4 separate regions of the Homo sapiens genome follow, and regions 1, 3 and 4 are each linked to region 2. Evidence: fine-mapped expression QTL. A gene starts in region 2. Each other region holds a variant in brackets. All regions are shown on one strand. Distances are between the middles of the regions.

What was found.
Region 1: its variant is fine-mapped to the expression of ENSA in whole blood (TOPMed, PIP 0.99).
Region 3: its variant is fine-mapped to the expression of ENSA in whole blood (TOPMed, PIP above 0.99).
Region 4: its variant is fine-mapped to the expression of ENSA in whole blood (INTERVAL, PIP above 0.99).

Annotation. Positions count from the first base shown.
Region 1 is chr1:150,543,155-150,551,255 of GRCh38, forward strand. It overlaps ADAMTSL4 (ADAMTS like 4), which reads left to right and starts at 6,254. Exons shown (of 19, transcript NM_019032.6): 1 at 6,254-6,345; 2 at 6,668-6,741. LOC124904417 reads left to right here and starts at 7,136. Exons shown (of 1, transcript XM_047438226.1): 1 at 7,136-8,101. The coding sequence starts at 7,136. The coding sequence ends at 7,906. ADAMTSL4-AS2 (ADAMTSL4 antisense RNA 2) reads right to left here. Exons shown (of 6, transcript NR_187269.1): 6 at 5,410-5,596. RefSeq lists enhancers at 152-652, 653-1,153, 7,460-8,101, a cis regulatory region at 2,247-2,966 and silencers at 5,439-5,733, 5,665-5,814, 5,985-6,124. The variant C/T (reference allele first, on the strand shown) is at 4,621.
Region 2 is chr1:150,625,577-150,633,677 of GRCh38, forward strand. It overlaps ENSA (endosulfine alpha), which reads right to left and starts at 4,036. Exons shown (of 4, transcript NM_004436.4): 1 at 3,838-4,036; 2 at 1,891-2,016; 3 at 66-232. The coding sequence starts at 3,894. LOC112268239 (a long non-coding RNA gene) reads left to right here and starts at 4,243. Exons shown (of 2, transcript XR_007066603.1): 1 at 4,243-4,926. RefSeq lists enhancers at 599-1,130, 3,751-4,020, 3,763-4,730, 4,731-5,700.
Region 3 is chr1:150,558,950-150,567,050 of GRCh38, forward strand. ADAMTSL4 (ADAMTS like 4) reads left to right here. Exons shown (of 19, transcript NM_019032.6): 16 at 13-216; 17 at 338-517; 18 at 812-956; 19 at 1,111-1,984. The coding sequence ends at 1,247. It overlaps ADAMTSL4-AS1 (ADAMTSL4 antisense RNA 1), which reads right to left. Exons shown (of 4, transcript NR_104133.1): 3 at 4,153-4,268; 4 at 1,946-2,273. It also overlaps the pseudogene RN7SL473P. Among named protein-coding and RNA genes, the nearest start is that of ADAMTSL4-AS2, 5.3 kb to the left of the region's middle. RefSeq lists enhancers at 889-1,058, 1,858-2,047, 2,838-3,017, 2,844-3,695, 3,696-4,549 and 2 more. The variant C/CAAG (reference allele first, on the strand shown) is at 4,755.
Region 4 is chr1:150,598,276-150,606,376 of GRCh38, forward strand. It overlaps LOC107985203 (a long non-coding RNA gene), which reads left to right. Exons shown (of 3, transcript NR_186818.1): 3 at 5,845-6,009. It also overlaps the pseudogene LOC124900445. Among named protein-coding and RNA genes, the nearest start is that of MCL1, 23 kb to the left of the region's middle. RefSeq lists enhancers at 1-211, 6,355-7,193. The variant T/TTG (reference allele first, on the strand shown) is at 4,478.

The sequences.
Region 1 (8,101 bases), 82 kb before region 2:
GTTGTTTTTGTTTTTTGTTTTGAGATGGAGTCTCGCTCTGTTGCCCAGGCTGGAGTATAGTGGCGTGATCTCGGCTCACTGCAACCTCCGCCTCCCAGGTTCAAGCAATTCTCTTGCCTCAGCCTCCCGAGTAGCTGGGACTATAGATGCCCTCAACCATGCCCAGCTAATTTTTGTATTTTTAGTAGAGACGAGGTTTCACTATGTTGGCCAGGCTGGTCCTGAACTCCTGACCTCGTGATCCACCCGCCTTGGCCTCCCAAAGTGCTGGAATTACAGGCGTGAGCCACCGCGCCTGACCGAGTATATCTTTTTTAAAAAAGAAAATAAATAAAGAAATAAAGTCTACATAGCGGTGACTGGGAGACCAGAATATCCCATTCATGTCTTGGTCCTCATCGTACCAAATGGATCACATCCTGTTTCTTCATCATTTCATCAGGTGCAAGGCAGTTGGGCCGTGATGGGGCAGGACAACAACCAGAAAATGCTGGAATGTGGCCAGAGCTGAGGCAGTGCTCACCCCACACACATTCATTAAATGCCTACTGTGTGCAGAGTGAGGTGGTGAATACAAAGGTAAACACAGCAAGGTGGTCTCACCCTCCAGTCCCTGGAAGAGCACAGGTCACCACTGGCTGCTCTCATAGCAGCTGCCTAGTATGGGCGGCTGCGTCAAGCCAAAGCGGAATGGTCAGAAGAACAGCATCAGTGAGACAAAACAGTGGAGACAGCATGACAGGACACGGACTCAACGGCTGGAAGCCAGCCTGGCGCGCAGCAATTGGGAATGGGGTGTCTGTTTTGGAACAAAGGAGTTGAGCAACCATGATTCGGAGAGGCAGAAAAGCAAACACCAGGCTTTCCGAAAATGGTTGCTATGACCACAAACCTAAAGACAGACAGCTGCATGTTCATTTCTGGGCCCCAACTGTACATATTATTGGTATTAGCATCAGCATTATCTTGGAATAGGGACAACGTCTTATATGAGGCATTCATTCAAAATGTTATTTAATTTATAAAACTTCCTTATGCTACTGCCAGGGGAAAAAATTATTAAGTAAATTCAGCTAAATTTCTGGAAATTTTATTTGCATACAATGTATACAAATAACAGCGCCTAATTTAGAATCCTGGCTCTCTCACTTTCTAGCTGAGAGATTAGAGACAAATTAGTGGATTTGTCTTTGTGTCTTTGTTTGCAAATCTGTAAATGGTGTAACAGTCTCCACCTCACAGGGTTACAATGAGGACAGAGTGAGGTAATGTGTGTAAAGCTCTTCTAACAGCCCGGTCGGGGGCACAAAGTAAGTGCTATATACATGTTAGCTATATTATTATTATTAAATCAGTATGTTGAGCTCAAAGTCAGACCAATGTCAGCCTGTCCCCTCTTTTTTTCCTTATCTGTCCAATCTTTAGAGATAATTTTGGATGAACATCTACTTTTCTTTTTTCTGAGATGGAGTCTCGCCCTGTCACCCAGGCTGGAGTGCAATGACACGATCTCGGCTCACTGCAACCTCCGCCTCCCGGGTTCAAGCAATTCTCCTGCCTCAGCCTCCCGAGTAGCTGGGATTACAGACGCCTGCCACCACGCCTGGCTAATTTTTGTATTTTTAGTAGAGACGGGGTTTCACCATGTTGGCCAGACTGGTCTCAAACTTCTGACCTCAGCGATCTGCCCACTTCGGCCTCCCAAAGTGCTGGGATTACAGGCTGGATGAACATCTACTTATTACATAATCTTTTTAAAAACGTCTCTCTTTTTTTTTTTTTTTTTTTTTTGAGACGGAGTTTCACTCTTGTTGCCCAGGCTGGAGAGCAATGGTGCAATCTGAGCTCACCGCAACCTCCGCCTCCCAGATTCAAGTGATTCTCCTGCCTCAGCCTCCCAAGTAGCTGGGATTACAGACATGCGCCACCACGCCTGGCTACTTTTCTATTTTTAGTAGAGACAGGGTTGGTCAGGCTGGTGTTGGACTCCCAACCTCAGGTAATCCGCCCACCTCAGCCTCCCAAAGTGCTGGGATTACAGGTGTGAGCCACAGTGCCCGGCCTTAAAAACTTCTTTTTAAAAATTATTTATGTATTTGTTTATTTTTGAGACAGGGTCTTGCTATGTTGCCCAGGCTGGTGTCAAATTCCTGGGCTTAAGCAATCTACCCACCTCAGCCTCCCAAAGTGCTGGGATTACAGGTGTGAGACACCGCACCCAGCCTAAAAACTTTTTATCCTGGAGACAGTGTCCACAAACTTAATCTGGTATTTCACAAGTTGCTGAGGCATAGGAAACTCTTTTCTTTCTACAATATTTTCAGACCACCAAGCCATGAGAGGTGACAGCAGTAGCAAATCTCATGAGCTCTTCGGTGAGCAGCCATTTCTTAGTGGAAAGGACTGTATCTGACCTTCAGTTCTCAGCAGTTACAAATGTCAAAGGCAGACCTTTTCTCTCCTCCCAGGCTCCCCTCCCACACTCCTGTCCTGCAGCTTCCCTCCCTGTAGATAAGTGAATGCTGATGAGGTGTGACTGGGCCAGGACTGAAGGGTCCCTGGCCCAAAATATCTTCCTCTGCCCGGAAGGCTGGGCTTCTCATCATCTATATCATACTCTGAGGTCTGGGGAAAGGGGCTTCCCCTTCAAAGCTAGCACTATAAATATGTCTCCAGGTTGTCACCAGGAGTCCCTAGATAAACCACCCCTCTGGGAGGGGCATTAACCTTTTATCTTCTCAACCCATGTAGGAACTCAGGACTCAGATGGAGGATGAGGAGAGGCACCTCCCAGAGGCGCAGGTCAATCTGACCCGCTTCATGTTTCGTGGTGTACTTCGTGTTTTCAAGTTGTTGTTGTTGTTTCAGTGACTTATCAAAAAAACAAAACTCTAATATAAAATAGGAAAAAGTATAGATGATACAAAGTAGCATAAATAGTCCTTTATTCTGAAAGAACTTAGTGATTTACCGAGAAAAAATATGCATGTTAAATTTCAAATAATGATACAATTCTTTTTCTCCTTTCTTTTTTCTTCTTCTTTTTTTTTTTTTAGATATGGGGTCTTGCCATGTTGCCCAGGCTGGACTTGAACTCTTGGCCTCAAGTGATCCTCCCACTTCAGCCTCCCGAATCGCCAGGACTACAGGTGCCTGCAATTGTACCCAGCTCGGGACACAATTCTTACATTTTCTTTTCTTTTCTTTATTTTTTTGAGGCAGAGTCTCGCTCTGTCACCTAAGCTGGAGTGCAGTGGCATGATCTCAGCTCAATGCAACCTCCGCCTGCCAGGTTCAAGCAATTCTCCCTGTCTCAGCCTCCTGAGTAGCTGGGATTACAAACGCCCACCACCACACCCGGCTAATTTTTGTATTTTTAGTAGAGATGGGGTTTCGCCATGTTGGCTAGGCTGGTCTTGAACTCCTGACCTCAGATGATCCGCCCGCCTTGGCCTCCGAAGGTGCTGGGATTGCAGGCATGAGCCACCGCGCCCGGCCCAATTCCTACATTTTGAAAGCATTTTACGTTTTCATATCCATCATCTTCTTAGAGATAACATCTCCTTCAGCTGAGCCCAGTATTAACCTTCGCATGACCCCATTACCTGCCGTGTCTGTGCCTGATCAGACCCAACTCCTTGAGGCCAGAGACTTCTTGCTGCTTCTTCAACACCAAGTGCAAAAGGCGCCCAAAAAATGACAGGTGGGGAACCAAAGACCTCTGATATTTTGTGAGGATGCAGGACAATGTTGTTAGAGCTTCTATTTTTGTGTTTTAGTTTTTCAAGAGAAATTTTAAAATATCCAGGTTTTAAAATACGTATTGACAAGTTATTTAAAAAAAAAAAATGTGCCTTTAGGTTGGGCCCAGTGGCTCACACATGTAATCCCGGCATTTTAGGAGCCCAAGGAAGGAGGATTTCTTGAGCCCAGGAGTTTGAAACTAGCCTGTCTTAAAAACAAAAAACAAACAAACAAAAACCTTTAAAACACTGAGTAGACCCAACAAAATACAACGCGTCAGTAAATAGAAAGTAAAAATATAGGCCGGGAGCAGTGGCTCATGTCTGTAATCCCAGCACTTTGGGAGGCTGAGGCGGACGGATCATGAGGTCAGGAGTTCGAGACCAGCCTGGCCAACATGGTGAAACCCCATCTCTACTAAAGATACAAAAAATTAGCCAGGCGTGGTGGCTCGTGCCTGCAATCCCACCTACTCAGGAGGCTGAGGCAGGAGAATGGCTTGAACCCAGGAGGCAGAGGTTGCAGTGAGCTGAGATGGCGCCATTGCACTCCAGCCTGGGTGACAGGACAAGACTCCTTCTCAAAAAAAAAAAAGTAAAATATAAAAATAGCAGTGACCATTTATTGTCTACTCTATGCCAGCCATTTTACATATTTTATTTATTTATGTGTTTATTTTTTGAGACGAGGTCTCTCTCTGTCGCAGGGGCTGGAGTGCAGTGGCACGATCATAGTTCACTGCAGCCTCAAACTCCTGGGCTCAAGCAATCCTCCCCGCTCAGCCTCCTGAGTAGCTAGGACTACAGGCTTTCACCACCATGCCCAGCTTACATATATTATTTATAATAAATAATAGCCAGGCGCGGTGGCTCACGC[C/T]TATAATCCCAGAACTTTGGGAGGCCGAGGCAGGAGGATCACTTGAGGTCGGGAGTTGGAGGCTAGCCTGACTAACATGGAGAAATCCCGTCTCTACTAAAAAATATAAAATAAGCCAGGCATGGTGGCGCATGCCTCTAATCCCAGCTACTTGGGAGGCTGAGGCAGGAGAATCACTTGAACCTGGGAGGCGGAGGTTGCAGTGAGCCGAGATCGCGCCACTGCACTCCAGCCTGGGCAACAAGAGTGAAACTCCATCTCAAAAAAAAAAAGAAAAAAAAAAGATAAAACTAATAGATGGATTGCTCTTGTGGTTAAAAAAATTCACAAAAATAACATTACATAGCTGGGTGCGGTGGCTCACGCCTGTAATCCCAGCACTTTGGGAGGCCGAGGCGGACGGATCACGAGGTCAGGAGATCGAGACCATTCTGGCTAACACGATGAAACCCCGTCTCTACTAAAAATACAAAAAATTAGCCGGGCGTGGTGGCAGACGCCTGTAGTCCCAGCTACTCAGGAGGCTAGGGCAGGAGAATGGCGTGAACCTGGGAGGCGGAGCTTGCAGTGAGCCAAGATAGCACCACTGCACTCCAGCCTGGACGACAGAGTGAGACTCCGTCTCAAAAAAAATAAATAAATAATAATATAATAATAATAAACATAACGCAGAGTAAAAAGCAAAAGCCTTTTTCAGTCCTCCCCCAACCCTGCATCCCTCCCCAGATGTCACCAATACTACTGAGTTTGGGGTGCATTCTTCCATGTATAAATGCATAAAGAGACATATCCAAGCCCATCATATATATTAGATTAGTCCCATTTTGCAGATGAGCAAACTGCACCACACAGGGGTGGAAGTATTCGTCGAAGACCACATAGCTGGCAAGAGCTGGAGCTGAGGTTCAAATCCAGATCAGTCTGACTCAGAAGTCAGCACGCTGTCCTTTCGCTGAGTCCCGAGTGTAAAACCTTACTGAGGAAAAAAACCGAAGCTCATAGAAGTCCCAGCAATCTGAACCACCACTGCCCAACACGGGAGAGGCAGGAGTGACTGAGTTTGCAGGGGAGGCTGCGTGGAGGGGAGAGCCTGGACCCACGCGGATCGGGGGCCGCGGGTACCTCCGTCCAGGGCGCTTCCCTCCCGGACCAGCGGCTCTCCCAGGCCGCCTCGCTCCAGGCGCCCCTGGAGGCTGCCCCGCCTGTGCCGCGCCGCGCCGCGCCGTGTTCGCACCGCTCACCCGAGCGGCTCGGAGGCCCGGGTTGCTTAAGTCCCTAGTCTCAGCCGGGCACGAGGACAGCGCCCGGGAGCGACTGCAGCCTCTGACCCCGGCTGGGCCAGCCCGGGCTGCTTAAGTCCCTAGTCTCGGCCGGGCACGAGGACAGCGCCCGGGAGCGACTGCAGCCTCCGACCCCGGCTGGGCCAGCCCGGGCTTCAGCTCACGCAGCCGTCGGGGGGCGCCCGGCGCGCAGCCCGGGGTGGGTGGTCCTGGCGAGTGGGGCTGCGAGGCAGACCGGCCCCACCCCGGGGCCGCCGAGGGGCGCGGGCTGGGGCGCGTGGCGGGCGGGGCTGGGCGGGGGCGGGCGCGAGGGCGGAGTTGCGGCCGAGGCGGCCGTGACCGGAGCGCGGCTCAGGGGCCCCAGTGGCCGCCGCGGAGCGAGGTTGCCTGGAGAGAGCGCCTGGGCGCAGAAGGGTTAACGGGCCACCGGGGGCTCGCAGAGCAGGTAGAGACCTCCCCGGGACCCCGGCCCCGGCCGCCCCTCTCCCGGGTCCCGTTAGACCGCCCGCCCCGCGCGCCCGCGTCGTCCCCTCTCCCTGCGCTGTGCGGTCGCGACCCCGCCACGACCCCGGACCCAGCTCCGGTGGCCTCGGACAATCTTCCAGCCCCTGGGGTCGAATTCCTGGGGAGGGAGTCTGATCCCGTGGAACTCTGGCCCCATCACCCGGGCGGGGAGTGAACCAAAATTCCTCCTAAGTCACATAGTAAAGTTGGAAAACAGACCCATGACCTCCCCGCGCGGCCGGTGCCTCCTGCCCTCTCTCTAGGAGGGTGCTCTCGGACGGTGTGTCCCCCACTGCACTCCTGAACTTGGAGGACAGGGTCGCCGCGAGGGACGCAGGTGGGTGCCCTTGATCCAGCTCAGCCCGATGGCAGAAGAGGTTGACAAAAAAGAAAGACACCTGTTGGGGTGGCCTGCCAGACCCAGGAGTGGAGGGCTCTGAGGGCCCGGGAATTCGGACTCAGGACAGGGATTCTCCATGGCTAGGCCCAGAAACACAGGGTCCAACCACTCTCCAGCAGGGAGACCTGGGGGTGAAGGGGTGAGCCCTGCGCAGGTCTCTGTTCCTTGGTCTTCACTGGGCAGTGTGGAGAGGTGTGGCCAGGAGGAGCCCGCGTTTGTCCAGACCAGGGTCTACTCTGGCACCAGAGTGACCACCTCTGACCTCTCCTTTCCTCGTCCTGGGCCGGGAACGACACCAAATGAGGGACATGGAAAGGGGTGAGAAGCATAAATGTGCGTGTGTTTCTGCAGAGGAGGGGGCATGGGCCCCTGCCGGGCTGCGCAGGGGAGGGTGGGGTGGGACTTTTCCAGAGAGGGAGCCAGGCCTGGCCCGGGCCCCGGGAGCTCACGTCACCCCCACCCCTCACTTCTCCAGGGAACTGCCAAAGCCAAACCCAGCTCGGGATGGGATTATGTGTACTGGGTAGACCCGTGGAGAGGGGCTGCGAGAAGAGATCTCGGTGGCAGAGAGAAGCAGAGGCAGAGAGGGCATGAAGAGGGGTCGGCATCAGAGAAGGGGCAGGCAGTGACTATCACCCCATTTCTTCTTCCCTCAGCTGGAGTAACAAGAGTCAGGCAGAGCCTGAAGACTTGGGTGGAACATGGGCCCTTCTCTGGAGATCCTGGCCTCCCCCGTTCAGTCAGGGTGGAGTTGCTGACCTTAGTGGCCGGCCCAGCCAGGGGAAGGAGTGGCCATCGGCAACCCCCACCCCAACCCCAATCCCTGAGGCGCCCGCTCTGGCTCAGCCACTCTGACCCCTCCCTCAAATTCCGAACCCTAGGTCTCAGGGAGGGCAGTGGGGCTGAGTGTCTGCCCCCAGGCACATTCCTACCCTTCTCTTGGTCATTTTCTGCCCCAGAGCTGGCCCACCTCAGCAATGCGAGGGCTCCCTGGATTCCTCTCCCGGGTGCCTTTCAGATCCAACAGAAACAGATTTTTTTTTTCCTGGAAAGCAGAACTAAGAGTGGGATGAGGAGCAGGGGTGGGAAGGACTCAAAGTGAGAAGAAGGGGGCAAAGAGAGTCAGGCTTGGTGGCTGGGGTGGCTTCCAAGCCTCACTTCTCCAGTGTTCAAAGCTGAACTTCAGATGGACTTCCCGGCTCTTCAGAATGAGAGGCCTGTGGCTGGGGCATGAGGCAGCCCCGGCTGCACCTCTCCTTCCCGCTTCCCCAGCTGGTAGAGACGCACAGGAAACAAG
Region 2 (8,101 bases):
TCCCTGCCTATAATATATAAACGTCCAGTGGTTGAGGAAGGGGAGGAGAGGGGGGCTCAGGTTACCCCGCAAGCTTGCTGGTGACGAGCGAGGACTTTCTCTGGGGCAGATCCTGTGGGGTGGGGATGTGATCACCAGTCACCAGGTTCTTGTCTGGTCCTGCACTTGGCAGCTGCTTATTCTTCATCTTGGCTTTGGCCATGTTGTAGTCTCCTGAGTCAAAGTACTTTTGCTAAGAGATAAGAGGGAGGTTTAGGTGAGTGAGGACTCTGGCCTTCCTCAAAAACAAGGAGACTCACATCTCACATCCATTATAAACCCTCATGCACACTCGGATCTTTCAAGAAGTCTTCCTTGATTAACCTCATGCATACACAGTTTAACATTAATTACATGTACTTATGTCTTCTCCCCAGTGTGTTCTGACTTTTTCAGGTACATAAGCAATTTCCCAGCTAGAGTATATAGTTTTGGAGTCAAGGGATAGCCCCTGCCATCCTTTGTACTCCACTCAGTAGAGGATCGTTCCACCAAAATCACTTATTCATAAAGGGTAACTGAGGACCTTACTGGGTACAGGGCAATAGCCTGGAACTGGAGAAACAGAAATGAATAAGATATAGAGAAGGATAAATATGGGGCTATCCTAGCCACCAGGAGATCAACCACAAGCCAACAACCTCAAAATGATTATTCTCCCAGACCAGGAATAGAAACTGGGCCTGTTCATGAGGATAATGTATTTTCCTTCTGACTCTCACAGCTCCCACACATGTTCCATGACTGTGACAGCCTGCCCACGCCTGCCTTGCCTCCAGCAAGGTAAATGCAAATCAGCATCACATTATCATCTGTGACTAAGACTCAATAACTGGGATCCTCCACAGGGATGTTTCACCCACCATTTCATCCGCACAGAGAAGCACACTCCAATGTAATGATTTATAATCCTACAGTCATTGCAGAGGAGAGTAAGGAAAATAAAAAAATTTTTTTTTGAGATGGAGCCTCGCTATGTTGCCCAGGCTGGAGTGCAGTGGCACGATCTCGGCTCACTGCAAGCTCCGCCTCCCGGGTTCACGCCATTCTCCTGCTTCAGCCTCCCGAGTAGCTGGGACTACAGGCGCCCGCCACCACACCCGGCTAAGTGTTTGTATTATTAATAGAGACGGGGTTTCACTATGGTCTCGATCTCCTGACCTCGTGCTCCGCCCGCCTCGGCCTCCCAAAGTGCTGGGATTACAGGCGTGAGCCACTGCGCCTGGCCAAATTTTTTTTTTAAAAAACGATAATATAATCCCTCAGTCAGCTTTAGGTACCTTTGGGAACTAAAAATCTGATCAGGAGCTACATGGCTATGAAAGTAGACTCTCTCTTGGTAAGGAGGACCACTCTGAACAAGAAAAATACATTTGCTGCAGGAGTATAATTAATGGCTGGTGCTCACTTCAAGGGTATGAAGAAACTGATTCATTTCAAGTTGAGGATTTATTTCTGTAGGAGAGATGGTTTGATCTTCTTCTGAAATGATGCATCCCAAAATTTATCTCTAATGCTTAAAAAGTGCACAATCCTAAAACCTCCAACATTCAAACAGGCAAATGCCTGGGGGCAGTCTGCATTTCAGTTTCTAACATCTTTCCCTCATTTCCCCACACACCCAAATGCTCCAATTTAGGCCTTAATTTCCTACATGGGAAATCAGGAGGGAATTGATACCACATCAGGGATTTACATTAATTTGACTTGCTCTTTTCAAATTTCAAATTCGCCTCTACTTCTGTTCAACAACAAAACCTCCAGAAAAGGATCCAGTAGAACCTCTACAGACTTCATTCGAAGAACCTCCTTTAGCTCCAAAGAAAGAGGGTAAGAGACTATGCCCCATACCCCTTTCTGGAGTCTCTTCATGAGGAAGTCGGAGCCTCCAGGCTTTTGTCCTAGGCTTGGGTATTTGGCCTTTAGCTTTGCCTCTTCAGCTCTCTCAGGCAGAATACCTTCTTTCTCCTGCGTGTCCTGGAGAAAACAAATGAGCCAAATAAAATTAAAGACTGAGAAACAACAGCTTCTCACATCTGATAACAACTATACTATCAACTTCTCCTGGAAATCCACCCACTTGTAAATACGCTATCTCTACTCTGCTGTTAAAGCTAGACCTTTGTTAAAATCCCTAAAGCTCAAGATGACTATTGTGAGAGAAAAAGACAAGCTGCTTCTCACACTTCACCCAAGGAACCAGCCAGGGACCTGTGCGTATTGGGCTAAAGGTAATACTAAACACAATACTTTAATCACAGAGTGGGCCATATCACTCAGCACAAATGCTAAGAAAGACAAAGAGAAAAAAGCAGGGCTTCTGGTGATAGAGGATGAGTAGCAGGGTTCCCTAGGCTATCCTACATGTCACATGAGAAATTAAAAAAAAAATAGTTTGGGGCTGGGAGCAGTGACTCATGCCTGTAATCCCAGCACTTTGGGAGGCTGAGGCAGGTGCATCACTTGAGCTCATGAATTCACTACCCGCCTGGGCAATATGTTGAAACCCCGTCTCTACAACAACAAAAAATAGTTTGCTAAATGTTTCCTCCTTATTTTTTTCTTTCTTTTTTAAAATTGCTACACGACAAAGCAGTTCCTTCTTTATTCAAGGTCTAAGCCACCTGTTAGGTCTCCCTGTGGAGGCGGCTAGCTATGTGGCCTTCTCCAAAGATCTCCACCTGAGTAATGGCACAGCCTTGCTTCAACATTTCCACAAATATTATGGTAGCAAGCTGATAAACAGAGAGGAAAATGATACTGTTTTTAACCTCAGGAAAACAAAGATACAGTAGGCTCACTAGTATTTACCCACCAGTTTTCATCAAAAAAATCAATACCTACCCTGGTGGTGCAGGGACTCTCACTACTGTAGTCAATCTCTTTTTTTTTTTTTTGTGGTCCCTGCTGCCCTTTAGTGACTTTTTGAAAAGATATGAAGTCAACGTATGACTCTTTTTAGTGGAATTATATTCCTTTCTCTTGGAAATTACGCATAGATATAACACCAAGTGTATTTAATGAGTACCTGAACCCAGTACTAAATTTTAAAAGTCAAATACAAACCCCAATAAGGGGTTTATTTGGCGTTAGTGTTTCCATCACGGAATCGCAGGTGCACTAAGTCCCTGCCTTGGAAGTCTAGGGGAAGAGAGAAGTGTCTTTCTCACGACCCTGTCGGCGTCTTTTCCAAGTTTAATTACCATGATTCTGTTTGGAACTCTAGCCCTCTTCAATATTGCTGGGTCCTCACTGAAGGTGAGCAATAGACCATCCTTAGCTACTAAAATAGGTCTCTTGAGAAAGTTGCCGCCTTAAACTAGCCATTATAATAACTACACTTCTCCCCTCCCCCAATACTGGTTTTTTTTTAAACGTCTTTACCTCGACCCCTATCTTTGCGGATTGAGGCTGCGGGCCCCAGCCCGGTTGCTGGGTCACTTACCTCTACAAACCAATAACACACATCACACCCAAGACCACCAGCCATCCCCTTTCCATTCACCGTCTTTCCAACCACCCGCCCCACGTCCATGCTCGGCCAATTATAGCACAGCGTCCAAGGTTTGAGCGGTAGGCCTATTGGCCAATCAGGAAGAGTACAGTACTGAGTGACAAACGACCCAACTAACCAGCGCCAAAGCAGCATGTCGTGTTGAAGCTCACCCAGCGTGACGCAAAAAGTGGCCAACCCCTGCGGAGCCTGAGACCATGGCGACCAATCCGCACTGGTGGGAGACCGTCTCCCGCCCCATCACGGTCTCCCCAGCTCGCCCGCCCGCACCCCTTCCACTTCACCTGCTTCTCCTCGCCGGTCTCCTCCGCAGGGTTCTCTTCTTCTTGTTTCTGGGACATGGCGGGACCGGGACTGTGGAGTGTAAGGGGCCCGGGAAGGCAACCGGAGAAGGGAAGGGGGAGGGGAAACGGGGACAACCTGCGCTGCTGCTTCGGCTCCTGTCACTAGGGTTGCTCAGTCAAAATGGCGGCCCTTGCCCGTGACGTTGCGACCGCCCCTTCCTATGAGAGCCAGTGGGAGTGAGGTAGATAGGGCAATGACGTAACGATCTACCAATAGTCGCCGTCTAAAGGTGGGCTCTATAGAGGCGACCGGCAAGCTGGAACACCAACCTGGAAAGAGAGTGAGCCACAAGGACCAATTGGAAGCCTGTGGGGGATATCGGGGGCGGGGCTGCTGGCTGTGGTACTTTTGCAGCTTTGGTGGGCTCCGGCTTCCTTCACTCCAGCCCACCGCGTCCGAGAGACTTAGCAGGGCGTCAAACTGGAGAGCGGAAGGATGGAACCTTTTATTCTCAGGTGGAGAGGATTAAGCTTTGCGGTGTTAGCAGAAAATGATCGAGCTCCAGAAAATGATTTGGAGGTCAGATTCGATTTTAAAGTAGTACTAACAGGCCGGGCGCGGTGCCTCACGCCTGTAATCCTAGCACTTTGGGAGGCCGAGGTGGGCGGATCACCTGAGGTTAGGAGTTCGAGACCAGCCTGACCAACATGGTGAAACCCCGTCTCTACTAAAAATACAAATATTAGCCGGGCGTGGTGGCGGGCGTTTGTAATCCCAATTACTTGGGAGGCTGAGGCAGGAGAATCGCTTGAACCCTGCAGGCGGAGGTTGCAGTGAGCCGAAATCGCGCCACTGCACTCCAGCCTGGGTGACAGGACGAGACTTTGTCGCGAAAAATAAAATAAAACGGTACCAATGGTATTACGATGTGTCACTTGGCCTGTGGAAGAGAGAGACTGAGTCTCAACCCGAGCTGTCTTGCAAAACACTAATGGCTTACGTTCCGTAGTTTCACTCTTATGTGTAGTTTTTATATTCCATCAGGGTGATCCCTTGGGGACTACGCTCCTTGAAACAAGGAGGACAGTGTAAGTATGTGGTAAACATTTGGTAAATACGGTTAATACTAGTTAACCTATCCAGAATTACAGTTTAACATTTCCTGGGCGTCTGTCTGTATGTGGATGGTACTGTGTTAGTTGGGGGGGGTACGTGTATAGTAAGGCAGTCTCTGCCCTTAGAAAGCTTACAGGCCTGGCTGGGCGCGGTGACTCACGCCTGTAATGCCAGCACTCTGGGAGGCGTAGGCGGGCGAATCACTTGAGGTCAGGAGTTCGAAACCAGCCTGGCCAACATGGTGAAACCCTGTCTCTACTAGAAATACAAAACAAGGCTGGGCACGGTGGCCCACGCATGTAATCCCAGCACCTTGGGAGGCCGATGAGGGTGGATCATGATGTCAGGCGATAGAAACCATCCTGGTCAACATGGAGAAACCCCGTCTCTACTAAAAATACAAAAATTAGCCAGGCGTGGTGGCGTGCACCTGTAGTCCCAGCTACTCAGGAGCCTGAGGCAGGAGAATCGCTTTTACCTGGGAGGCGGAGGTTGCAGTGAACCGAGATCGCATCTCGCCACTGAACTCCAGCCTGGGTGACAGTGAGAGTCCGTCTCAAAAAAAAAAAAAAAAAAAGAGTGGCAGATAAGAAGTGCTCTTTATGGAGATAATTTGGTGGTAATGAATAAAAAGACTCAGAATTCCAAGCAGAAAACTACCAGAGATGAACAGTCTAGCCGAGTCCTCTGCAAACGTTAGGTGGGAGATAATTAGGATTTAACCTAGAAACGTAGTAGTTAAGAATAGAAAATAGTGAACCTAACCAAGAGAGTCTGTGACAATGGAATCCACTAGACTAGCAGCTGACTGAATAGAGAATGAGAAGACTGTGTGCCTCAAGGTGATTATTTATAGAAACAATAAATTCAAGAAGAGGAGTCAATTTGGGAATGGAGCTGAAAAGCAGAGAGAAAATAAGGCATTCAGTTTTGAAAACATGGACTTTTTTTTTTTTTTTTTTTTTTTTTTGAGACGGAGTCTCGCTCTGTCACCCAGGCTGTAGTGCAGTAGCACAATCTCAGTTCCCTACAACCTCTGCCTCGCGGGTTAAAGTGATTCTCCTGCCTCAGCCTCCCGACTACAGGTGTGCGCCACCATGCCCGGCTGATTTTTGTATTTTTAGTAGAGACAGGGTTTCGCCATGTTGGCCAGGCTGGTCTCAAACTCCTGAACTCAGGTGACCTGCCTGCCTCGGCCTCCCAAATGCTGGGATTACGGGCGTGAACCACCGTGCCCGGCCTGAAAACATGGACTTTATTAAAAGCGAATGAACCATTTGGTGGAGACATCCAGGCAATGAAGACTTAGGATAAATGACCTCTAAGATCTCCATATCTGAAATTTAAGGGTTCTAGGAAATGTAAGTGTGGGAGTTTGGGAGAAAAGTAGACGCTGAAGATGTACAAATTTTGGACTTTTTCACATAAATGTAAGTAAAGTTGTGGAAGTTGATGGGATCACAAAGGAGAATGTAGGAAAAAAAGAGGTTCCAGTCAGGTGCGGTGGCTTACACCTGTAATCCCAACACTTTGAATGGTCAAGGTGAGAGGATCGCCTGAAGCCAGGAGTTTGAGGTTACAGTGAGCTATGATCATGCCATTGCACTCCAGCCTAGGCAACAGAGTGAACCCGTCTCTTAAAAAAAAAAAAAAAAAAAAAACTCCCAAGACAGAAACGTGGGGAAAAGTTGGCAAAAGACATACAAATGATCAGAGTGGTAGGGAGAGAATTAGAAGAGAGAAGAGCCATGGAAAGCAAATGAAGAAAGGGAGGGCAGGTTGTCAATGTTAAATGTGATACAGAAATTAAAGATGGAGGTGATAGAGGTCAATCGCAAGACGTTAAGGAGCGAGGAGGTGGTACCAATATTGAACAGTGGTAGCAATATTTAACAGTAAAGCAAGGAAAGGGCAGAGCTGTAGCAGCAGATTTTCTTTTGGGGAATAGGCAAGACTCAAGCATGTTTTTAGAAAAGGCGAATGAGGCTGGATGTGGTGGCTCACGCCTGTAACCCCAGCACTTTGGGATTCATCTAAAAGATGAATAATTCTTTTGGGAAATACTTTCTGATCAAGCTATTTCTAATTCCAAGCTCTGCTTAAGAATAATGTGTAAAAACTATGATTGCTAAAGGAACGATTGATTTAAATTATACATTTGTCCTTTTTTTTGAGACTGAGTTTAATTCTTGTTGCCCAGGCTGGAGTGCAATGATGTGATATCTCGGCTCACTGCAACCTCCCCCTCCCAGGTTCAAGTGATTCTCCTGCCTCAGCTGTGGGGAAAAGAAAGAGAGATCAGACTGTTACTGTGTCTGTGTAGAAAGAAGTAGATATAAGAGACTCCATTTTGTTCATCTTGTGAGTCGATGGCGCACGATTGCGGTGTTTCTGTCTCCGTGGAGGTGCTTTTCTTTGCATCTCCGATGGGTTCATTGTAGAACTTCAAATGTCTAGTGGGTATCCAAACAGGAAGCTGATTTTCTCCTGGTGAAACACAAGCAAAACCTCTCCCCCATGTTACCACCTTCCCTATTTCCCATGTCTTATTTTTATTATCTTTCTACCAAATCAGTTTTCCTTCATGTGGGCTGTTCTTTTTACCAGTAAGATGTTGTTCTGCAGAAGTAGTAGTCTGATTTCTATAAATGTTTAAAAAATATAAAGTGCTAGATTAAGTTGCATCTGAGGCGTGGTACATTCCTTACTGTCTCCCCCTTCTTTTTATTTAACTAATTGAGTTTTGAGTGTTCTATTAGTTCTTTCAACTATGGCCTGTCCTTGGGAATTATAAGGAATTCCTGTTGTATGTGAAATTTTCCACTGACTTAAGAATTTTTGGAAAGCTTTACTACAGTATCCTGCCCCATTGTCAGTTTTAATTTTTTCTGGAACTCTCATTACAGCAAAACAAGGTAATAAATGTTTTTTAACATGGGAAGTACTTTCTCCTGTCTGGCAGGTTGCCCATATGAAATGTGAATAAGTATCAACTGTTACATGAACATATAATAATCTTCCAAATGAAGGTACATGCGTGACATCCATTTGCCGTAATGCATTAGGACACAGACCCCTGGGATTAACTCCTGCCTCTTGAGTGGGCAGGTGTAGGACTTGACACTGGGTGCAATGTCGTACAATATC
Region 3 (8,101 bases), 67 kb before region 2:
CCTCCTCCGCAGTGCTCAGCCGAGTGTGGGACGGGAATCCAGCGGCGCTCTGTGGTCTGCCTTGGGAGTGGGGCAGCCCTCGGGCCAGGCCAGGGGGAAGCAGGAGCAGGAACTGGGCAGAGCTGTCCAACAGGAAGCCGGCCCCCTGACATGCGCGCCTGCAGCCTGGGGCCCTGTGAGAGAACTTGGCGCTGGTACACAGGGCCCTGGGGTGAGGTAAGCTGAGCGCCTGCTGAGAGCAGGAAGGGGGTGCCAGTCCCAGTGGGATTCCTTGTGGGCACTTGGGGTGCTCTCTGTCCTCCCCTCCCCTCATCACCCTGCCCTCCCCCTACACTAGTGCTCCTCCGAATGTGGCTCTGGCACACAGCGTAGAGACATCATCTGTGTATCCAAACTGGGGACGGAGTTCAACGTGACTTCTCCGAGCAACTGTTCTCACCTCCCCAGGCCCCCTGCCCTGCAGCCCTGTCAAGGGCAGGCCTGCCAGGACCGATGGTTTTCCACGCCCTGGAGCCCAGTGAGTGTCTGGCTGCGCTGTCCTGCCCTGCTCAGCCTGGGCCCCTAGGGGAGGGGAGCTCCTCTCGCTGTACCCCCTCCAGGTCTCTCTGTGCCCCAGAATAAGCCCAGCCAAGCGTTACCACTGTCCTACTTCTTATAGACTTGGAGGAAAGATGGGCCCTCTCCATTTGGGATTTCACAATGTCCTAGGAGGGTCCCCACCACCACCTTTTGGGGAGAGAGGTGGCAGCCAGGGGTTAAGGAGAATCCCGGGCCTGGCAAAGGTCTGATATGATGGCTGGGGTCGCCCCAGTGTTCTCGCTCCTGCCAAGGGGGAACGCAGACACGGGAGGTCCAGTGCCTGAGCACCAACCAGACCCTCAGCACCCGATGCCCTCCTCAACTGCGGCCCTCCAGGAAGCGCCCCTGTAACAGCCAACCCTGCAGCCAGCGCCCTGGTAAAGAGCCCCCTCTCCCCAATCCCCAATACAGTGGATTAGCTGAAGTATGGGAGGAGATGAGAAAGGACCAGTGGGAATGGGCAGCACACCCATTCCCAGACGGGTGGGTCCTGGTGACTCTCTTGTGCCCACTGGCCTCCTCTGTCCCCAGATGATCAATGCAAGGACAGCTCTCCACATTGCCCCCTGGTGGTACAGGCCCGGCTCTGCGTCTACCCCTACTACACAGCCACCTGTTGCCGCTCTTGCGCACATGTCCTGGAGCGGTCTCCCCAGGATCCCTCCTGAAAGGGGTCCGGGGCACCTTCACGGTTTTCTGTGCCACCATCGGTCACCCATTGATCGGCCCACTCTGAACCCCCTGGCTCTCCAGCCTGTCCCAGTCTCAGCAGGGATGTCCTCCAGGTGACAGAGGGTGGCAAGGTGACTGACACAAAGTGACTTTCAGGGCTGTGGTCAGGCCCATGTGGTGGTGTGATGGGTGTGTGCACATATGCCTCAGGTGTGCTTTTGGGACTGCATGGATATGTGTGTGCTCAAACGTGTATCACTTTTCAAAAAGAGGTTACACAGACTGAGAAGGACAAGACCTGTTTCCTTGAGACTTTCCTAGGTGGAAAGGAAAGCAAGTCTGCAGTTCCTTGCTAATCTGAGCTACTTAGAGTGTGGTCTCCCCACCAACTCCAGTTTTGTGCCCTAAGCCTCATTTCTCATGTTCAGACCTCACATCTTCTAAGCCGCCCTGTGTCTCTGACCCCTTCTCATTTGCCTAGTATCTCTGCCCCTGCCTCCCTAATTAGCTAGGGCTGGGGTCAGCCACTGCCAATCCTGCCTTACTCAGGAAGGCAGGAGGAAAGAGACTGCCTCTCCAGAGCAAGGCCCAGCTGGGCAGAGGGTGAAAAAGAGAAATGTGAGCATCCGCTCCCCCACCACCCCGCCCAGCCCCTAGCCCCACTCCCTGCCTCCTGAAATGGTTCCCACCCAGAACTAATTTATTTTTTATTAAAGATGGTCATGACAAATGAGAAATGAGCTCTTCCTTGTCGGCTATGGACCCCTCAGCAGTGTGAAGGCAGAAGGTAGGGTGGGCAGGGGAACAGCATTAGAGCCCAGGAGAGTTTGGGTCAGAGAATCCCCGCCAGCCCCAGGCCCTGCAGGCTGGTCATGGGCCACTAGAGGTCACCAGTTCTCCCATTTGAGGTGTGGGGCGCTGGGTTCCAGAGCTGAAGGAAGGGCTGCGCGGCCGCGGTGCGCTTTTTGGTGGGTCGAGTCTCTCTGGGAAGTCTCCGGGTATCTGCGCCTTTCCGCTGGGGCCTGAGCGAAGGGCAGTTGGCTTGTCGAAGCTCTTTTTTCCTGTTCCCTTTCTCTAGCCCTGCCTTCTGTCTCCCTTTCTGCCGTACGCATATCCCTACGCTCTGGGGCTTCTTCTGGGGTGGGGAAAGGGAAGGGATTCCTGCCCCGAGCCCTTCCCCTGGAGGAGGAGGAGCCCGGCCCGGCTCCAGGGCCCTGGGCGGGGCTGAGGGAGGAGCGGGGCAGCACTGGATGTCCTGCCAAAGCCACATTCCTCAGAGATGGCTCAGCCTGGCCTCCTTCCTCCTCCTACTCGCTTCTCTCAAGGTAGAGAACTTGCTAGAGGCGGCCTGAGAGGGGCAGGCCTTTGCCATCACATCCTCTCCCAGACCCCTGCCATTCGGAGACTGAGGCCGAGTCTCTCCTGGAAGCCGGGCTGCCCAGGAGGGGCGGTGCCGCAGGAGCGCCCCCGCTCGCGACTCCACAAGCCCAGCTGAGCACGGCCGGGAATACGGGGCCTGCGGAAACAGTGAACTCAGTGGCTGCTGTTTTCTGAGCACCTGAACCCTGTGGGGGACGACAGAGTTGCCCGAGGCGGCAGGATGTCCCCACACTCGCGGTCCCCCGCACATCTTCCTGTTGCTTTGGGACTCGGGCTTTCTCTGGGTTGAAAGTGGCTGAGAAGGAAGAATTTGGACATCTTAAGAGGAGAGCGAGTGGGGAAGGAGGCAAAAGGGAATGGAGAAGGAAGATAAAACTGACGTCAGCCCAGGGCAGGGAGCGAGGAAAGGGGGCCACAAGGAAAGCCCAGTTCCAACGTCTCTGCTGAGCCTAAAGAGGCCTCAGCAGGGAATCACAGATGTGGGGGGCCAGGGAAACGGGATCCGAGCCCGCCCAGTAGGTATAGAAGGCCGAAGGCAGAGTCCTGAGACCCAGGGAGGGGTGGGGTGGAGGCTGGGGCCCTCCCAGCGATTCCTGGAAGCCCAGAGCTGGGCGGTGCCGGCTCAGCTGACTTCCCCGAAGCTCCCCTCCCTCTGCTCAGGGCTGTTGCTGGGCAGGTTTGGCGTTTGCCCTGAGCCTGAGAACCAATCGCAGGTGGAGGTGCGGTCGCAGCCCCTCGCAGGGCTCCCCGGCTTCAGCACCCCCTTTCTCTTTCTGCCCGCCCATGAGCTCCCTCTCGGCCTCCAGCCTCTGACCTCTCAGGAGGTGGGCTCTCCTCTGGGGGTCTGCTCCCTTTCCCCTCTTATTTTAGAGCTAGGACTCAGTGCAGCCCCTAAGGATTCCTTCCTCTGGTCACTGAGGTCATTATGGGGTCAATGCGGAAGTTCTCAGGAAAGGGAACCCGACCCCAAGCAATCCCTTTTCTTGGCCCCGTAGAGGGGAGTAGTGTGGCCAGACACCTGTTCGCTGACCTCTGAAACCCTCTGGGGGGACTTGGGAGAGCAGAAGCTGCAGCCTGAGGGCAGAGGAATGTGGGGAGGGCCCCTGGGTTTGGTGCACTAGTGGGAATTTAGGGAAGGACTCAGAGGAACTGGACCCCTGAGAATTGAGATGAGGGTGGGGTGGTGATAGGAACAAACTTGATATGCACAAGAGAGATCAAGCATGCAAAAGGCCTGCAAATTGTTGAGGATGCCTCCTTTCTGAGGGTGTGCTGGGGGAGGGGGTTGTGGTTTGAGTATCAGTGACACTAGGGGTGATCTGTGCTCTCACAAGTTCAGCTGGGTCAGGATTCCTCTCCCCTCCCCCTCCCAGCTTCCCCAGGGTAAATACCCACCCAATTTAAGTTGCAGCTTTTGGACTAAATTTAGCTCCTGGACTTCCCCAACCCCCAGGCCTCCCTGTAAGCAGGTGCTCACAGCTGCAGCATGGGTCTGGTGGAGAGTTTGAACCTTCTCCTCACCTCCACTCATCCAGATTCCACCTTTCTGGTAACTAGGAGTGAAGCAGAGCACAGGAATCCAGTGGCTGGCCCAGGGCATAAGTGTCTCAGCCTTAAGCCACCTTCTCCCAGGAAACCTGTAAGAGAAGAGCTCTGGTGGGAGACTCTAGATGGACATGGAGGGTGGTGGGGTGTAGAGAGAACAAGATGCCAGGAGAGCCTCCCTCCAGATTCTCTCCAGCCAGACCCTCTCTCATTCCTTGCTCTCCCCTTGTCCCCAGGTTTACAAATAGAGACTTCATGTTAGCATCTTCCCCACCAGAGTAAACTGACCCAGGAAGCCCTCTCCTCTCTTTGAACCATGGAGAATCATGCTACCGTAGAAATTATGGTTTGGGGAGGTGTGTGTTTCAAGTAGAGGTGGTTTGCCACAGGTAGGTGATGAAGAGCTGTCAGCTTTAAAGGGCAGAGACACCGTCTAAAGGAAGTAGAAAGCCTCAGGAAAGTACCTAAGTCTAAGTCTGTCAACAAGAGACAGAAAAAGTTTGGGTTAACCTCAAAGTAGCCAGCATAAACCCTGAATCTGACTTTTGGGCTTCCTGACCTAGGAGACTGGGAAAACT[C/CAAG]AAGAGGGTGTTTCAGGGCTGAGTCTGAAGGAAGAAAGGATTTGAGGGAGGAATGTATAAGATTAGTCCAAAACAAGGTATGCACGAGATATGGCAGTCAGATGCCAGGGAGCCATCAGCTCTGCCAGCTGAAGGGGAGGTGCAGAGTTGGCTGGAAGCTGGCCAGAGCAGAGCATTTCTCCTGTGAGCACTGGAGAGCTGTGCTGAGAGGCCTGGGAAGAGCCCTGTGCTGGGGGAGGAAGGCTAGGTTGGGTCGGCATGTTTGTGTGCTGTACTCTTCTGAGCCTTACCTGAATCTCTTGAGATAGCTCCACTGAACTTTGAGTGAAGAGGAAAAGAAACTGGGGGAAAGAGGGTGGGATTATAAAAAAAGGAGCAGACTGTACCCCTGGGATCCCTAGGCTAAAAGGCCCTCCCCTTGATGAGACAGGCAGAGATCATCTCCCCTGGAACAAGGTCACCCTTCCTCTCTCCCATCGCTACATTCCTCTCCTCCTTACTGTTGACTATTGGTTGCCTGCCTCTTTCATCACAAAATGAGACTCCTCTTTAGCTTTAGTAGAGGGTTGGGCAAACTTTTTCTCTACAGGAGTAGATGATAAATATGTTAGGCTTTGCAGGACCTATCATCTCTGTTGCAGCTTCTCTACTGTAGCAGCACAAAGCAGCCATAGACAATAAGTAAACAAATGGGCGTAGCTGTGTTCCAATCAGACTTGTGACACTAAAGTTTTAAATTTTTCTTTTTTTTTTTTTGAGACAGGATCTTGCTTTGTTGCCCAGGGTAGAGTGCGGGGGTGGGGCGCAATCATAGCTCACTGCAGTTTTGACCTCCAGGGCTCTAGCCATCCTCCTGCCTCAGCCTCCCAAGTAGCTGGGACCACAGGTGCAGGTCACCACACCCAGCTAATTAAAAAATTTTTTTTTGTAGAGACAAGGTCTCACTGTGTTGCCCAGGCTGGTCCTGAACTACTAGGCTCAAGCAGTTCTCCCACCTCAGCCTCCCAAAGTGCTGGAATTACAGGCATGAGCCACTGTGCCCGGCCCATTTTTTTCAACCATTTAAAAATACCAAAATGATTCTTAGCTTGTGGGCCATACAAAAACAGGCAGCAGGGCAAATTTGGCAGGGAGGTGGTTTCTGACCCTGGGGATTTTTCCTAACTGGTGACTTCTGCTCTGCCTAGCCATAGAAAGTCCTGTTTGTGTCTCTTCCAGGCCTCAAAATACAGCTGTAGAACCTTTTAATTCAACATACTCTACTGATGCCTGGTTCTTAATTGCTTCTCCTAGGGAATTTAAGGACTTGAAAATGGTTAATAGAGTAAACCCTTAAGGGACAGTCCTGAAACTCCTTCTATTTGTGTAGTGCTTTAAGGTAAAAGCACAAAGCACGTGTATCAATAGTCTCTCTTTAAATCTTTGCGGTAATAAGATAGCTGACAGTATCGTTAAGTCCTGTTTATAGGGGAGAAAATTAAGGCTTCAGATCTAGTTTCTTCACTTTTTTTTTTTTTTTTAGATGGAGTTTTGCTCTTGTTGCCCAGGCTGGGGTGCAATGGTGTGATCTCGGCTCACTGCAACCTCCGCCTCCCGGGTTCAAGCAATTCTACTCACTCAGCCTCCCAAGTAGCTGGGACTACAGGCATGTGTCACCACGCCTGGCTAATGTTGTATTTTTAATAGAGACAGGGTTTCACCATGTTGGTCAGGGTGGTCTCGAACTCCTGACCTCAAGTGATCCACTCGCCTCGGCCTCCCGAAGTGTTGGCATTACAGGCACCACGCCTGGCCAAAAACACTTTTAAAAATTTATTTTTGGTTAGACACGGTGGCTCACGCCTGTAATCCCAGCACTTTAAGAGAGGCCAAGGCAGGGAGATCACCTAAGTCCAGGAGTTGAAGACCATCCTGGCCAACACAGTGAGACCCTGTTTCCATTTATGTAAAAATAAAAGAATTTTTAAAAATTATATGTATATTTTTAAGAGACAGGGTCTCACTATGTTGCCTAGGCTAGACTTGAACTCCTAAGCTCAAGCAATCCTCCCGCCTCAGCTTCTTGAATAGCTGGGCCTATGGGGTGCCTGGCTTCCTTCTTTTCTCTTTTTTTTTTTTTTTTTTTTGAGACAGGGTCTTGCTGTGTCATCAGGCTGAAATGCAGTGGCACAATCACAGCTCACTGCAGCCTCAACTTCCTAGGCTCAAGTGATCCTCCTGCCTCAGTCTCCCTAGTAGCTACGACTACTGGCCATGAGCCTTCTATTACTCAGTTTCATTCACACGGGGCATCTTGTTATCAAAATAATTTTGGCCTCAATGATCCAAACCTTGAATAGTTTTTTGTTTTGTTTTGTTTTGTTTTGTTTTGAGACAGAGTCTCGCTTGGTCACCCAGGCTGGAGTGCAGTGGTGCAATTTCGGATCACTGCAACCTCCTGGCTTCAAGTGATTCTCCTGCCTCAGCCTCCTGAGTAGCTGGGACTACAGGCACGCACCATCATGCCTGGCTAATTTTTGTATTTTTAATAGAGAAGGGGTTTCGCCATGTTGGCCAGGCTGGTCTTGAGCTCCTGGCCTCAAGTGATCTGCCTGCCTTGGCCTCCCAAAGTGCTGGGATTACAGGCATGAGCCACTGTGCCCAGCCCAAACCTTGAATAGTTTTAAGTGTTCTTGCTGTTTTTTTTCAAATGTCTTTCAGGACTTTTCAGCTAAAATTCTGTTTAAACTTTTTCAGACTTTCAAGAAATTAGAAATGCTTTCAAATTCATGATAGTTTTGTGTCATTTATACCCAATCCAGACTTATTTAGACCAAACAGCCTTTTTTTCCTACCAGTGTTTTCCAATTTTTATCTTAAGAGGCAGGGTCTTGCTATGTTGCCCATGCTGGAGGGCGGTGGCTATTCACAGGTGCAATTCTACTACTGATGAGCACAGGAGTTTTGACCAGCTCTATTTCCAACGTAGGCAGGTTCACCCCTCCTTAGGCAACCTGGTGGTCCCCCACTCCCAAGAAGTCACCATATTGATGCGGAACTTAGCATGAACACCAGATCAACATAGCGCACTATAGCCCTGAACTCCAGGGCTCAAGTGATTCTTCTGCCTTAGCCTCCAGAATATCTGGGACTACAAGCGCGTGCAACTGCGCCTGGCCAATTTTCCTGGGTCCAGGAAATGACAGTATTCCTGGTCTTTGTTTAAGGTACACTGTCTTGCAAACATAGGCTTATGTATAATGGTAAGCCACAAGCATTTACTAAGTTTTTTTTTGAGACATAGTCTCACTGGCCCAGGCTGGAGTGCAGTGGCACGATCTAGGATCACTGCAACCTCTGCATCCCAG
Region 4 (8,101 bases), 27 kb before region 2:
CAAGGCTACAGTGAGCTATGATCTCACCCATGTATACCAGCCTGTGTGACAGAGCAAGATCCTGTCTCTAAAAAATAACTTAGGAGAGACAACAAAAATATGGGCAAAATAAGGAGTTAAAATGGAGGACAATACAAATGGTATATACATACATGCCCATACACATATACCTATAATCTCTACACACGCATGTATGTATATGTGTGCATGTGTAACTTTTGCTTATCTTTCATTCTGGCAAAAATGTAAATGACCAGGCCAGGTGTGGTGACTCATGCCTGTAATCCCTGTACTTTGGGAGGCCGAGGCAGGCGGATCAACTGAGGTCAGGAGTTCAAGACCAGCCTGGATAACATACAGTGAAACCTTGTCTCTACTAAAAAATACAAAAATTAGCCGGGCATGGTGGTGTGCACCTGTAATCTCAGCTACTCAGGGGGCTGAGGCAGGAGAATTGCTTGAACCCAGGAGGTGGAGGTTGCAGTGAGCCAAGATCATGTCACTGTAGTCCAGCTTGGGTGACAGAGTGAGATTCTGTCTCTAAAATAATAATAATAGGCTGGGCGCGGTGGCTCACGCCTGTAATCCCAGCACTTTGGGAGGCCGAGGCGGGCGGATCATGAGGTCAGGAGATCGAGACCATCCTGGCTAACACGGTGAAACCCCGTCTCTACTAAAAAAATACAAAAAATTAGCCGGGCATGCTGGTGGGCGCCTGTAGTCCCAGCTACTCGGAGGCTGAGGCAGGAGAATGGCGTGAACCTGGGAGGCGGAGCTTGCAGTGAGCCGAGATTGTGCCACTGCACTCCAGCCTGGGCAACAGAGCAAGACTCTGTCTCAAAAAAAAAAATAAAATAAATAAAATAAAATAAAATAATAATAATAAATTAAATGACCACTCATATCTAATATCAAGTATTAGAAAAGTATGGGCAAATGGCCTATAGCAGTCTTACAAGGTTGGTGGGAATATAAATCAATTTAGGGCAATCTGTAAGTACATATTACAATTTTTTTCAACAGTGTAAGGAGGTTTTTGTTTGTTTTTTTGTTTTGTTTTGTTTTGTTTTTGAGATAGATTCTTGCTCTGTTGCCAGGCTGGAGTGCAATGCCATGACCTTGGCTCACTGCAACCTCCGCCTCCTGGGTTCAAGCGATTCTCCTGCCTCAGCCTCCCAAGCAGCTGGGACTACAGGCGCCTGCCACCACGCCCAGCTAATTTTTGTATTTGTAGTAGAGACAGGGTTTCACCATGTTGACCAGGATGGCTTCAATCTCTTGACCTTGTGATCTGCCCGCCTTGGCCTCCCAAAGTGCTGGGATTACAGATATGAGCCACTGCACCCGGCTGTAAATAGTTTTTAAATTGTGGATATGTAACAATAGACAAAATTATTTAAAGTCAATAAATTTTTATTCAAGGAATTCCATGTTGTGATTTCTTCCACTGTCCATCAAGGTCACTTTAGATCCTCTAAAGAGCTGGAGTCAAAAGATTTATCTTCAAGTTAGCCTTTTTAATGAAACTGATCCAGTTGTCCTGTCAGCCCATAATTACTTTGGCTTCCTGTCGTCTCCTTTTAATGTGGATATACTGATGAAGACTTCAAAATTCACCAAGAATCTTTGGGATCTAATTTCTTCAACCAATTTACTTTAGGGTCCTTTATACTGTCGGTCGTGGGGATCTGCCAGGTTATCAATTTGACACCTTAAGCCATCTCACTCAAGAATAGTACAGATGTGTGGAATATGCCAATACCTTTAACTCCAGACATCATGTTCTCAAGATAAAAGCTTTTAAAACAAAAAGCCATCGTATGTCTCATCAACATGAAATTGGAATGCAAAATTAATACTGCTGAGGATTTCCCTCATATCCCATGCTGTTTAACTATCTATTCTACAGTCCTAGAATCAATCTTTTTTTTAGGAGACAAGGTCTTTGTTACGAAGGCTGGAGTAGAGTGGTGCCATCAAAGCTCAGTGCAGCCTCCAACTCCTGGGCTCAATCCTTTTGCCTCAGCCTCCCCTTCCTGAGTAGCTGCAACTACAGGCACACGCCCCAATACCCAGCTAGTTTTTAAATTTTTGTGGAGATGAGGTGTTTGTTACTTTCTTGCCCAGGCTGGTCTTGAACTCCTGGTTTCAAGCAATACACCCACCTCAGTGTGGGGATTGCAGACTTGAGCCACTGCACCTGGCCTGGAACCAACCTTTATGGCTATCAATACTCCCATCAGTTAACTGTCTCAGGTATCATAATATCCCTTCTTATATGTATCAAAACTCATACTGAACAATGAGTTCTGGGTTGCAAAAAGTACATATTAAAATTTTAAATGCTGGGCACGGTGGCTCACACCTGTAATTCCAGAACTTTGGGAGGCCGAGGAGGGCAGAGCACGAGGTCAGGAATTTGAGACAGCCTGACCAATATGGTGAAACCCCGTCTGTATTAAAAATACAAAAATTAGCTGGGCATGGTGGCACGTGCCTGTAGGCCCAGCTACTCAGAGGCTGAGGCAGAAGAATCGCTTGAATCCGGGAGGCAGAGGTTGCATTGAGCCAGAATCCGGGAGGCGGAGGTTGCATTGAGCCAAGATTGCGTCACTGTACTCCAGCCTGGGCAACAGAGCAAGACTCTGTCCCTTTAAAAAGAAAAAAAAAATTTAAATGTGCATACCCTGTGACCCAGCAACTTTCAATATTTACCGTAGAGAGGCCAGGTGCAGTGGCTCATGCCTGTAATCCCAGCACTTTGGGAGGCCGAGGTGGGTGGATTACCTGAGGTCAGGAGTTTGAGACCAGCCTGGCTAACGTGATGAAACCCCGTCTCTACAAAAAAATTACAAAATTAGCCGGGCGTGGTGTTGCATGCCTGTAATCCCAGCTACTCAGGAGGCTGAGGCAGGAGAATCGCTTGAACCCAGGAGGCAGAGGTTGCAGTAAGCAGAGATCATGCCATTGCACTCCAGCCTGGGCGACAAGAGCAAAACTTTGTCTAAAATAAAATAAAACAATATTATATATATATATATTTATAATATATTTATATTTATATATATTTATAATATATTTATATTTATATATATTTATAATATATTTATATTTATATATATATTTATATTTTACCCTAGAGAAATACTCCCATATGGCACTAAGAGGCATAAAGAATTTTCACTGAAACATTGTAATAGCAAACAATTGGAAACAATCTATATGTCCAACAACAGAATGGTTAAGTAAGCTGTGATACATTCATACTATAGGATACAATATAACAGTTCTTATGAATGAGACATCTTTATATGTATTGAGATGCAAGTTCTCTGAAACATGTTAAGGGTAAAAAGAAGATCTGGAATAATACAAACCATGTGATACTTTTTTTTTTTTTTTTTTTTTTGAGACAGGGTCTGGCTCTATTGCCCAGGCTGGAATCCAGTGGCACTATCATGGCTCATTGCAGCCTTGACCTCCAGGGCTCAAGCAATCTTCCCACCTCAGCCTCCCTGTAGCTGGGACTACAAGTGTGTGCCACCACACCTGGCTATTTTTTAGTTTTTGTAGACACAAAACTATGTTACCCAGGATGGTCTCAAACTCCTGGCCTTGAGTGATTTTCCTGCCTTAGCCTCCCAAAGTGCTGGGATTACAGGTGTGAGGCACTATGCCCGGTTCATTTATGTTTTAAAAGTCTCATATAACTAGCCGGGTGTGGTGGCTCATGCCTATAATCTCAGCATTTTGGGAGGCCAAGGCAGGCAGATCGCTTGAGTCCAGGAATTCAAGATCAGCCTGGGCAACATGGCAAAACTCTGTCTCTACAAAAAATATACAAAAATTATCCAGGCGTGGTGGCATGTGCCTGTAGTCCCAGCTACTCTGGAGGCCAAAGTGGGAGGATTACTTGGTCTGGGAGGCAGAGGGTGCAGTGAGCCAAGATCATGCCACTACACTCCAGTCTGGGCAACAGAGTGAGACCGTCTAAAAAAAAAAAAAAATTCCCATATATTTCTACATGTAAATACATAGAAAAAGGGCTGGAAGGATATATAATCAATATTAAACAGTGTTTATCTCTGGAAGGAAAGGACCAGGACTTGGAATAATGGCAAGGAAGCCTTGTTTGTAGTTTTTTTTTTTTTTTCATCGTTTTTGAGGAGTCTCACGCTATCGCCCAGGCTGGAGTGCAGTGGTGTCATCTCAGCTCACCGTACCTCCGCCTCTCCGCCTCCTGGGTTTAATCGATTCTCCTGCCTCAGCCTCCTCAGTAGCTAGGATTACAGGTGTCTGCCACCACGGCCAGATAATTTTTTTTTTTTTTTTTTTTTTTTTTAGTAGAGACAGGGTTTCACCATGTTAGCCAGGCTGGTCTCAAACTTCTGACCTCAAGTGATCGGCCGGCCTCGACCTCCCAAACTGCTGGGATTACAGGCATGAGTCACCAAGCCCGGCTTTTTTTTTTTTTTTT[T/TTG]CTTTTTTTAATTTTTTTTTTTTATTATACTCTAAGTTTTAGGGTACATGTGCACATTGTGCAGGTTAGTTACATATGTATACATGTGCCATGCGACCGGCTTTTTTTGTTGTTGTTGTTTTTTGTTTTTGAGTTGGAGTCTTGCTCTGTCATCCAGGCTGAAGTGCAGTAGCATGATCTCGGCTCACTGCAACCTCCACCTCCTGGGTTCAAGCCATTCTCCCGCCTCAGCCTGCCGAGTAGCTGGGACTATAGGAGTACACCATGCCCAGCTAATTTTTTGTATTTTAGTAGAGATGGGGTTTCACCATGTTGCCCAGGCTGGTCTCAAACTCCTAAGCTCAGGCAATCCGCTCACCTTGGCCTCCTAAAGTGCTAGGACTACAGGCGTGAGCCACCATGTCCAACCTGTAGTTTTGTTTTTTTTTTGAATGAAGGTTTTTAATGTTATATGTTGTATAAAATTAATGCATTAATTTATTATTATGAAATCAAAACAACCCTACCTTACCCCGAAAATAACACCTGTAGGTTTTTGTCAGTTGTCAGATGGGCATCTTGCTATGTTGCCCAGGCCGGTTTCAAACTCTTGGAGCTCAAGCTACCTTCTGCCTCAGCCTCTAGAGCAGCTAAGACTACAAGTGTGCACCACCATGTCCAGCTTAGGTGTCAGTTTGATATGAGTCAGTAGCATAAGTAGTAAAGAAAACCTAAGGGGGCCTTGGGCTCTCCTACGGTCCAGGTCTACAAGCAAGCAGGTAATGGTTTAGTTCTATTTGGCTTGGTGAGGCCACATCTGGACCAAAGTTAGACAGGCACACTGACACATTTGAGCTCATCCAGAGAGTAGACAAGGTGATGCCAGGAGTCCACACTATGTCAAGGAGGACTAGCTAAAGGGAGGGAAAATGTTTAGGCTAGTAGATGTAGAAAGAGGTGGTCCTCAAACTCTTGACGTTTTCATGAGGGTGAAGATAGTAGATTTCAAGACACTGGAGTTATTCAAGAGACTAAATATTCACTTTCCAGGGATACTGTGAAAAAGATTCACTGAGGAGGCATTCGTTGGAACTAGATTTTTTTTTTTTTTAAGAGACAGGGTTCTGCTGTGTTACCCAGGCTGGTCTCTAACTCCTAAGCTCAAGAGATCCGCTTGCCTCAGCCTGCCAAAGTGATGGGATTACAGGGTAAGCCACGTGCCTGGCCTGGAACTAGATTATCTTAAAGTTAGTTTCCAACTAACTTTATTTCAATTTATTTCAAGTTTCCTTGAAATAAATTGAGTTTTCAATTTATTTCTGGTTCCTTGGCCTCAACCAGATTTATTGAAATTTAAGTCCCTAAAACTGTCTTTTGTTTTATTATAGAGAGGATATTAACCAGAAGGTTACATACTACAATCTGGAAGGAATAATCTCAATATCATGAGTGCCAATTAAGTGCCTCAGAGAATACAAAGGTGACCATAACTGGAATGCTTAACAAGTACCAACTGAAGAAATGTAATGAAAATTAAAGTTTAATTTGTTTTCCCCTGTCTCTGCACAATTTATTTCAGTGGGAGAGGTTTTCCTCAGATGTGGATCACCTTTAGGTAATAGTCTTTGCAACCACTTTAAGTAGCAAAACATACTCTTGGTCCGAAATATATTAACACATCAATTTTCATCATAGGTAAGAATCTCTCTACCCCACAGCTAGGGTCAACAGAGCCAGCCAGCTCGCCTCTGTGAAAGAGGGGGTAGTTGGCTTCTCTCCTTTTGCTACACTGATATTTCTAGGAATGGGGCAGAATGAAGAGGAAGGGTTATTAGTGGCTTCATGCTGTCTAGGCCTGGCTGATGTTAAGAATTATCTCATGAGCATTTGTATGGCTCCATCAGAGGCTTCCCTGGGGGCGCTTTCCAAAGGCAGTGGCAACTTCCTGAAGTGAGGTGATGTATTCTATTTCTATAGCCACCACTCTCTCATTATCCTTTTGTTTTCCAGTGTTCTTTTCCACATGAAGAGCCCCACTATGCATCCAGGCAGTTCTCTTGAGTAGGATTTAAACTGGCTCCACACATGGTCCACAGGATTCATGTATATCTGACCGTTTATCAGAAGCCAGTGTGGTGACTTCCAGGATGTGACTCTCTACTTTGTTACATCAGGCTCTGTTGTTAGTCAGCTTTTGCCTTGAAATTCCTCTACCGTGAGTCATACACAGTCTAATGATTATCCCTTACCCAAGGACAAATACAAAATGTTTCAGTGGTCTTGAAGCCACTGTCTCTAGGATTGAGAAGATAGAATTACTCCTCACCTCATCTCTTTTTTTTGGGGTGGGGGATGGAGTTTTGCTCCCCCTGCCCAGGCTGGAGTGCAGTGGTGCGATCTCAGCTCACTGCAACCTCCACCTCCCAGGTTCAAGCGATTCTCCTGCCTCAGCCTCCTGAGTAGCTGGGACTACAGGCACCCGTCACCGCGCCTGGCTAATTTTTTTTATTTTTAGTAGAGACGGGGTTTCACCATGTTAGCCAGGCTAGTCTCGAACTCCTAACCTCAGGTGACCTGCCCGCCTCAGCTTCCCAAAGTGCTGGGATTACAGGCGTCAGCCACCTCACCTGGCCCTTCCCCACCTCTTCTCTTTGGGATTGAATAGGGCTCACAGCATGGTAGTAGCTCTCTCCAAAGAAAGCTCTTTTATAAACCCAATCTCCGCTTTTTTGTTGTTGTTTTTTTTTTTTTTTTTGAGACAGGGTCTCACTCTGTGGCCCAGGCTGAAGTGCAGTGGTATGATGATGGCTCATGGCAGCCTCAAACTCCTGGCTCATGTGATCCACCTGCCTCAGCCTCCTGAGTAGTAGCTGGGATTACAGGCATGCACCACCATGCCTGGCTAATTTTTTTTTTTTTTTTTTAGATGTATTACTCTTGCTCTGTCGCCCAGGCTGGAGTATAGTGGTGCGATCTCAGTTCACTGCAACCTCCACCTCCCGAGTTCAAGTGATTCTCCTGCCTCAGCCTCCAAAGTAACTGGGATTATAGGCGCCCACCACCACACCCTGCTAATTTTTGTATTTTTAGTAAAAACGGGGTTTCACCATTTGGCCAGGCTGGTCTTGAACTCCTGATGACCTCAAGTGATCCGCCTGCCTCAGCCTCCCAAAGTGCTGGGATTACAGGCATGAGCCTCTGCCCCTGGCTTTTTAATTTTTTCAAATTTTTTATTTTTTTTTTGAGACGGAGTCTTGCTCTGTCACCAGGCTGGAGTCCAGTGGTGCAATCTCGGTGCTCACTGCAATCTCTACCTCCCAGGTTCAAGTGATTTTCCTGCCTCAGCCTCCCAAGTAGCTGGGACTACAGGCACGTGCCACCATGCCCAGCTAATTTTTTGTATTTTTAGTAGAGACAGGGTTTCACCATGTTGAGCAGGATGGTCTCGATCTCTTGACCTCGTGATCCGCCCACCTTGGCCTCCCAAAGTGCTGGGATTACAGGCTTGAGCCACTGCGCCCGGCCTAATTTTTTAATTTTTTTGTGGAGACAAGGTCTCACCATGTTGCCCAGGTTGGTCTTGAACTAGCCTGAAGTGATCCTCCCACCTCAGCCTCCCAAAGTGCTAGGATTACAAGAGTAAGC